Linked DNA regions of Homo sapiens. Each later gene encodes a partner of the first gene's protein in a complex. Each region holds a gene or a part of one and is shown on either strand. Other genes may lie near its edges. The genes, in order: HBB and HP. A codon is read from its position in the direction of its gene.

Region 1 (3,600 bases):
GTAGACCTCTATAAGACAACAGAGACAACTAAGGCTGAGTGGCCAGGCGAGGAGAAACCATCTCGCCGTAAAACATGGAAGGAACACTTCAGGGGAAAGGTGGTATCTCTAAGCAAGAGAACTGAGTGGAGTCAAGGCTGAGAGATGCAGGATAAGCAAATGGGTAGTGAAAAGACATTCATGAGGACAGCTAAAACAATAAGTAATGTAAAATACAGCATAGCAAAACTTTAACCTCCAAATCAAGCCTCTACTTGAATCCTTTTCTGAGGGATGAATAAGGCATATGCATCAGGGGCTGTTGCCAATGTGCATTAGCTGTTTGCAGCCTCACCTTCTTTCATGGAGTTTAAGATATAGTGTATTTTCCCAAGGTTTGAACTAGCTCTTCATTTCTTTATGTTTTAAATGCACTGACCTCCCACATTCCCTTTTTAGTAAAATATTCAGAAATAATTTAAATACATCATTGCAATGAAAATAAATGTTTTTTATTAGGCAGAATCCAGATGCTCAAGGCCCTTCATAATATCCCCCAGTTTAGTAGTTGGACTTAGGGAACAAAGGAACCTTTAATAGAAATTGGACAGCAAGAAAGCGAGCTTAGTGATACTTGTGGGCCAGGGCATTAGCCACACCAGCCACCACTTTCTGATAGGCAGCCTGCACTGGTGGGGTGAATTCTTTGCCAAAGTGATGGGCCAGCACACAGACCAGCACGTTGCCCAGGAGCTGTGGGAGGAAGATAAGAGGTATGAACATGATTAGCAAAAGGGCCTAGCTTGGACTCAGAATAATCCAGCCTTATCCCAACCATAAAATAAAAGCAGAATGGTAGCTGGATTGTAGCTGCTATTAGCAATATGAAACCTCTTACATCAGTTACAATTTATATGCAGAAATATTTATATGCAGAGATATTGCTATTGCCTTAACCCAGAAATTATCACTGTTATTCTTTAGAATGGTGCAAAGAGGCATGATACATTGTATCATTATTGCCCTGAAAGAAAGAGATTAGGGAAAGTATTAGAAATAAGATAAACAAAAAAGTATATTAAAAGAAGAAAGCATTTTTTAAAATTACAAATGCAAAATTACCCTGATTTGGTCAATATGTGTACACATATTAAAACATTACACTTTAACCCATAAATATGTATAATGATTATGTATCAATTAAAAATAAAAGAAAATAAAGTAGGGAGATTATGAATATGCAAATAAGCACACATATATTCCAAATAGTAATGTACTAGGCAGACTGTGTAAAGTTTTTTTTTAAGTTACTTAATGTATCTCAGAGATATTTCCTTTTGTTATACACAATGTTAAGGCATTAAGTATAATAGTAAAAATTGCGGAGAAGAAAAAAAAAGAAAGCAAGAATTAAACAAAAGAAAACAATTGTTATGAACAGCAAATAAAAGAAACTAAAACGATCCTGAGACTTCCACACTGATGCAATCATTCGTCTGTTTCCCATTCTAAACTGTACCCTGTTACTTATCCCCTTCCTATGACATGAACTTAACCATAGAAAAGAAGGGGAAAGAAAACATCAAGCGTCCCATAGACTCACCCTGAAGTTCTCAGGATCCACGTGCAGCTTGTCACAGTGCAGCTCACTCAGTGTGGCAAAGGTGCCCTTGAGGTTGTCCAGGTGAGCCAGGCCATCACTAAAGGCACCGAGCACTTTCTTGCCATGAGCCTTCACCTTAGGGTTGCCCATAACAGCATCAGGAGTGGACAGATCCCCAAAGGACTCAAAGAACCTCTGGGTCCAAGGGTAGACCACCAGCAGCCTAAGGGTGGGAAAATAGACCAATAGGCAGAGAGAGTCAGTGCCTATCAGAAACCCAAGAGTCTTCTCTGTCTCCACATGCCCAGTTTCTATTGGTCTCCTTAAACCTGTCTTGTAACCTTGATACCAACCTGCCCAGGGCCTCACCACCAACTTCATCCACGTTCACCTTGCCCCACAGGGCAGTAACGGCAGACTTCTCCTCAGGAGTCAGATGCACCATGGTGTCTGTTTGAGGTTGCTAGTGAACACAGTTGTGTCAGAAGCAAATGTAAGCAATAGATGGCTCTGCCCTGACTTTTATGCCCAGCCCTGGCTCCTGCCCTCCCTGCTCCTGGGAGTAGATTGGCCAACCCTAGGGTGTGGCTCCACAGGGTGAGGTCTAAGTGATGACAGCCGTACCTGTCCTTGGCTCTTCTGGCACTGGCTTAGGAGTTGGACTTCAAACCCTCAGCCCTCCCTCTAAGATATATCTCTTGGCCCCATACCATCAGTACAAATTGCTACTAAAAACATCCTCCTTTGCAAGTGTATTTACGTAATATTTGGAATCACAGCTTGGTAAGCATATTGAAGATCGTTTTCCCAATTTTCTTATTACACAAATAAGAAGTTGATGCACTAAAAGTGGAAGAGTTTTGTCTACCATAATTCAGCTTTGGGATATGTAGATGGATCTCTTCCTGCGTCTCCAGAATATGCAAAATACTTACAGGACAGAATGGATGAAAACTCTACCTCGGTTCTAAGCATATCTTCTCCTTATTTGGATTAAAACCTTCTGGTAAGAAAAGAAAAAATATATATATATATGTGTGTATATATACACACATACATATACATATATATGCATTCATTTGTTGTTGTTTTTCTTAATTTGCTCATGCATGCTAATAAATTATGTCTAAAAATAGAATAAATACAAATCAATGTGCTCTGTGCATTAGTTACTTATTAGGTTTTGGGAAACAAGAGATAAAAAACTAGAGACCTCTTAATGCAGTCAAAAATACAAATAAATAAAAAGTCACTTACAACCCAAAGTGTGACTATCAATGGGGTAATCAGTGGTGTCAAATAGGAGGTTAACTGGGGACATCTAACTGTTTCTGCCTGGACTAATCTGCAAGAGTGTCTGGGGGAACAAAAAGCCTCTGTGACTTAGAAAGTAGGGGTAGGAGGGGAAAAGGTCTTCTACTTGGCTCAGATTATTTTTTTCCTCTAGTCCACTAAGAATACTGCGTTTTAAAATCATTTCCTTGATTCAAGTTCCTATTTCTCTTTATATTTTGTTTGTTTAAACCTCCTTTACTAAAATTTACTCTTCTTTCTCTATAGCTTCCCAACGTGATCGCCTTTCTCCCATCCCCCTGTACTTTTTCCCCTTGTACTAAATTAACTCCTCAGGTGAGGAAAAACTTTTGAAGTGCAGAGTTCTGCTTCCTGCTATTAAAAGATGTAATTAAAACAGCAAAGGTAGCAAGCATTTATGAGGTCAGCGTAGGGTCTCAGTGTTCCCTAAGGGCCCTGTCAGTCATCCTGAATCCTGCCCCTACCTGGAAACCCATGTCGGTTTAGTAAGGAAAGTGTTATACTTTTACTTTGCATGTTTCTCCTACTTCTTCCTTTCAGCTCTAACACTCTGAAACTACGATTACACAAAATAAAATAAAATAAAATAAAATAAAACAATAAAATGAAATAAAATTTAGGTTAACCAAAAGAAACTGGATCCTCTATTTCTAGTTATCAGAAGGAAATTTACAAATTTCTTATTTCCATTGCTTTATTCTCTT
Region 2 (4,132 bases), on another chromosome or scaffold:
TTTGCAAATTTCCCTATTGACATTTTCCAATGGTGTTGAGTGACTTTTTTTTTTTTTTTTTTGACGACGTCTCGCTCTGTTGCCCAGGCTGGAGTGCAGTGGTGCGATCTCAGCTCACTGCAAACTCTGCCTCCCAGGTTCAAGCAATTCTCCTGTCTCAGCCTCCCAAGTAGTAGCTGGGACTGCAGATGCATGCCACCACGCCTGACTAATTTTTGCATTTTTAGAAAATATGGGGTTTCACCATATTCGTATTGGTTAGACTGGTCTCAAACTTCCGGCCTCAGGTGATCCACCCACCTCGGCCTCCCAAGGTGCTGGGATTACAGGTGTGAGTCACTCCCCAGCCTTGAGTATCTTTTATGTGCTTTTTGGCACTTTATGTATATTTTTTGGAGAAATGTCTATTTAAATCCTTTGCCCATGCTTTAATTGTTTGTCTTTTTGTTGTTGTAGTTAGGATATGCTCTGGATAACAACCCTTTATCAGATATAGAATTTGCAAATATTTTCTCCCATTCTGTAGACTGTCTTCACTTTTTTTTTTGAGACAGAGTCTTGTTCTGTCACCCAGGCTGGAGTGCAGTGGTGCGATCTAGGCTCACTGCAACCTCTGCCTCCCAGGTTCAAGCAATTCTCCTGCCTCAGCCTCCGAGTAGCTGGGATTAAAGCATGCGCCACCATGCCTGGCTAATTTTTGTATTTTTAGTAGAGATGGAATTTCACCACATTGGTCAGGCTGGTCTCAAACTCCTGACCTCATGATCCGCCCACCTCAGCCTCCCGAAGTGCTGGGATTACAGGCGTGAGCCACCACGCCTGGCCTGTCTTCATTTTATTAATACTGTCTTTTGATACACAAATGTTCATTCCGATGAAGCCCAATTTATCTAATTTTTCTTTGATTGCTGGTGATTTTGGTGTCATTATCTAAGAATCCATTGCCAAGTTTTACTTGGTTTTGATCTCTAGAAGACTGCCATCATACTGAAGGTAATCTTCTGAAACTTGCGGTTTTCTTTCAAAAATTATGTTTATAAGATGATCCATGTTCTTGCAGAGTTTATTCATTTTATGCTGTATAATATTCCATTATATCCACATACAATGCAGTATTGACCCTTCCTCCTGTTGATGGGCATTTGTCTTGTTTCTAGTTACTTTGCTATTATATCAGTGTCACCATGATTATCCAAAAGTAATTCTTTTGTACACTCTAATTTAAGAACAACTAACCCTTTTTAATGAATAAATCAACCTTGTATTGAGTTGCTACTAAGTTTCAGTTGACTAGTACCTGGGATACACACAGGTGCAGACATTTGACTGAGACATATTGATTTTTCTCATCTGCCTATTTAGGCTAATCACCAGACTATAAAACCATGAGAACCACTGCCATTGAGTATAGTCTGTGTCAGTCTACACTATAGCTTTAACTAGTTGTGTGATTTCTTGCAAAGAGCAATCAGAGAAGACACAATAAACACATTTACTGATTTCAGGCTGGAGAGCTTTTAAGCAATAGGGAGATGGCCACACACAAGGTGGAGAAAATTACTGTGAAAAGGAAGTACTTTCTTTAGAGCCCCACCTAAGCTAGGCTGCAGAAATGTCTACAATGGGTTTGAAAAAACTCAAAATGAGCCTTTCTGCAGTGTGAAAATCCTCCAAGATAAAGAGACAGATTGATGGTTCCTGCCGCCGCCCTGTCCTGCCCAGTTGCTGATTTCAGGAAATACTTTGGCAGGTTTGTGGGTCATAGAGTTGCCAGGTTTCTTGGGATTTGTAATAGAACATCACAAGAAAATCAAGTGTGAAGCAAGAGCTCAACTCTTAACAGGGGTATTGTTTGTGGTTTTGTTACTGGAAAAGATAGTGACCTTACCAGGGCCAAAGTTTGTAGACACAGGAATTACGAAATGGAGAAGGGGGAGAAGTGAGCTAGTGGCAGCATAAAAAGACCAGCAGATGCCCCACAGCACTGCTCTTCCAGAGGCAAGACCAACCAAGATGAGGTGGGTCCACAGCTTTCCCTCCTGCCTTTCCTCTGGTTCTTTATTTCAGTCTTTTTTGCATACATCGGTAGAGATGCAGAAATAGAACAAAGAAACGGGCAAATGGGCTAAATTATAGTGAACCAAAGGGCTTAGTGTGTTAAATCTTCTCCTTTTCTGCATCCATAGAAGACAGTGCTGCTGTCTTTCCCAGGAGATAAGATTTACTCTCAGGAGTGTCTTTTTCCTTCAGGTTACATTTTTGACTTTATAGGGTATGTCATCAGCTCCCGTGGTAGGCTTCCTGGCATCCTGAGTATATTTATTAGCAGATATTTTCCTCTTTAAAAATGTACAATAAGGAAGACTAATAGTAACACATTTGAATGACACAATTAATTGACTAGTACCTGGGATACACACTAATACCTGGGATACATCTAATTAAGGCACTTAGATCTTATAAAAATAAACACTTTTTGAAATGTTGAAATAATAAGACTAGAAACTTTTTTTTTTTTTGAGATGGAGTCTCGCTTTGTCACCAGGCTGCAGTGCAGTGGCATGATCTCGGCTCACTGCAACCTCCACCTCCCAGGTTCAAGTGATTCTCCTGCCTCAGCCTCCCAGGTAGCTGGGACTACAGGCGTGCGCCACTATGCCCACCTAATTTTTGTATTTTTAGTAGAGACGGGCTTTCACCATGTTGGCCAGGATGACCTCGATCTCTTGACCTCGTGATCTGCCTGCCTTGGCCTCCCAAAGTGCTGGGATTACAGGCATGAGCCACCGTGTCTGGCCTAGAAACTATTTTAATAGAAGCAAGTAGTGCCCGAATGGTTGGCATTTGTTAGTGAGATGGTGAACTGGCAGACGGCACCTGTGGGTCAATGCCCATGGCCACCGTCCTGCTTTTGGACACCAGTTCTCTTCCAGGTAACCTTCTGGCATTTTGGGGTTTCAGATACCATTTCCTAAAGGTGAATTATTATAAAATACTAGAAATACCCACGTGTTTAAAATTATATATTTAAGGAACCTTTTATTACGGAAAATATCAAGAAGTAGAGGAATAGCACAGTAAGCCCAAAGTTCCCATCTCTGAGTTATCTACATTTTATTACCACTATCTTTGCGGTGTCTGAGGGAGGTTTCTCTTTCCTGGAGGGCTCCTGTATTATTGCCAATGTACTTTCCTGAATGCAGCCAGAAACTGAGCCCACCCCTCCACCTATGTGCCTTTCTATCCCTCTCTGAAGCTTCTGCAGAATTCCCAGCAGGACAGGGCTTGCTGGAAGCTTGGTATGCTCAGAAGCTGCTAAAGTGTGTATGGGCAGGTGTGGGGGCAATTTCTTGGTCCTAGCACTTCCATATATCGACTTTCTTTTCTGGCTGCTAAGTGGGAGGAGTGTGTGTGTATGCATGTGTGTGTGTGTGTGTGTACATGCATGTGTGTGTGGATGCATGCATGTGCTGTGAAGCAGGGAGACTAGCTTTCCACTCCTCCTTGTCTTCTCTCTGCAGTGCCCTGGGAGCTGTCATTGCCCTCCTGCTCTGGGGACAGCTTTTTGCAGTGGACTCAGGCAATGATGTCACGGATATCGCAGGTCAGTCTTTGGTTGGGTAGGAGTGTGCATCCCACTCTGACCCTCTCGGGTCTGCACTCTCTCTGAGAACACCCAATTCCCCCTTCTTATCTCGACCTCTGGGCTTTCAGGACCATAAAGAACATTGGGGTTCCTGCCAGAAATGAGGGGAGCTTGCCTTTCCATTGGCTTCTATTCGGGGTGGAAGGAGATTGATGTGCAGAGCAGCTCCCGCTCATCTGACTTTTCACGGTTCACTGGGAACAATTTCCAAATAGCAAACTCTCTGGCTTCTCTCTCTTTGCAGATGACGGCTGCCCGAAGCCCCCCGAGATTGCACATGGCTATGTGGAGCACTCGGTTCGCTACCAGTGTAAGAACTACTACAAACTGCGCACAGAAGGAGATGGTAAGATGTGGACAACTGTCTCCATGCCCTACATACAACCCCCTTCTCTGACATTTCCATGATGGGTGGTGCTGAGGTGATTCGCCAGAAAGTTCGTTGCTCTCCTTGGAGCCAGGAGATTTAGATTCTAATAAGCGTTT

The links.
Region 2: the proteins of HBB (region 1) and HP are in contact, whole or in part, in a crystal structure (PDB 6TB2), measured with the Homo sapiens proteins. Residues at the interface, in NP_000509.1 of Homo sapiens: Tyr36 (codon at 1,792), Pro37 (codon at 1,789), Trp38 (codon at 1,786), Arg41 (codon at 1,777), Glu44 (codon at 1,768), His98 (codon at 1,606), Val99 (codon at 1,603), Asp100 (codon at 1,600), Pro101 (codon at 1,597), Glu102 (codon at 1,594), Arg105 (codon at 1,585), Leu106 (codon at 732), Asn109 (codon at 723), Tyr146 (codon at 612); in NP_005134.1 of Homo sapiens: Gly164, Gly165, His166, Leu167, Ala169, Asn287, Ala288, Asn289, Lys291, Asp294, His295, Lys297, Tyr346, Gln347, Glu348.

Annotation. Positions count from the first base shown.
Region 1 is NC_000011.10:5,224,995-5,228,594, forward strand, and holds HBB (hemoglobin subunit beta), read right to left. Parts: upstream 2,078-3,600; 5' UTR 2,028-2,077; coding exon 1,936-2,027; intron 1,806-1,935; coding exon 1,583-1,805; intron 733-1,582; coding exon 604-732; 3' UTR 470-603; downstream 1-469. UniProt on the Homo sapiens protein: Involved in oxygen transport from the lung to the various peripheral tissues. LVV-hemorphin-7 potentiates the activity of bradykinin, causing a decrease in blood pressure.
Region 2 is NC_000016.10:72,052,640-72,056,771, forward strand, and holds the start of HP (haptoglobin isoform 1 preproprotein), read left to right. Parts: upstream 1-1,865; 5' UTR 1,866-2,013; coding exon 2,014-2,018; intron 2,019-3,521; coding exon 3,522-3,604; intron 3,605-3,890; coding exon 3,891-3,992; intron 3,993-4,132. UniProt on the Homo sapiens protein: As a result of hemolysis, hemoglobin is found to accumulate in the kidney and is secreted in the urine. Haptoglobin captures, and combines with free plasma hemoglobin to allow hepatic recycling of heme iron and to prevent kidney damage.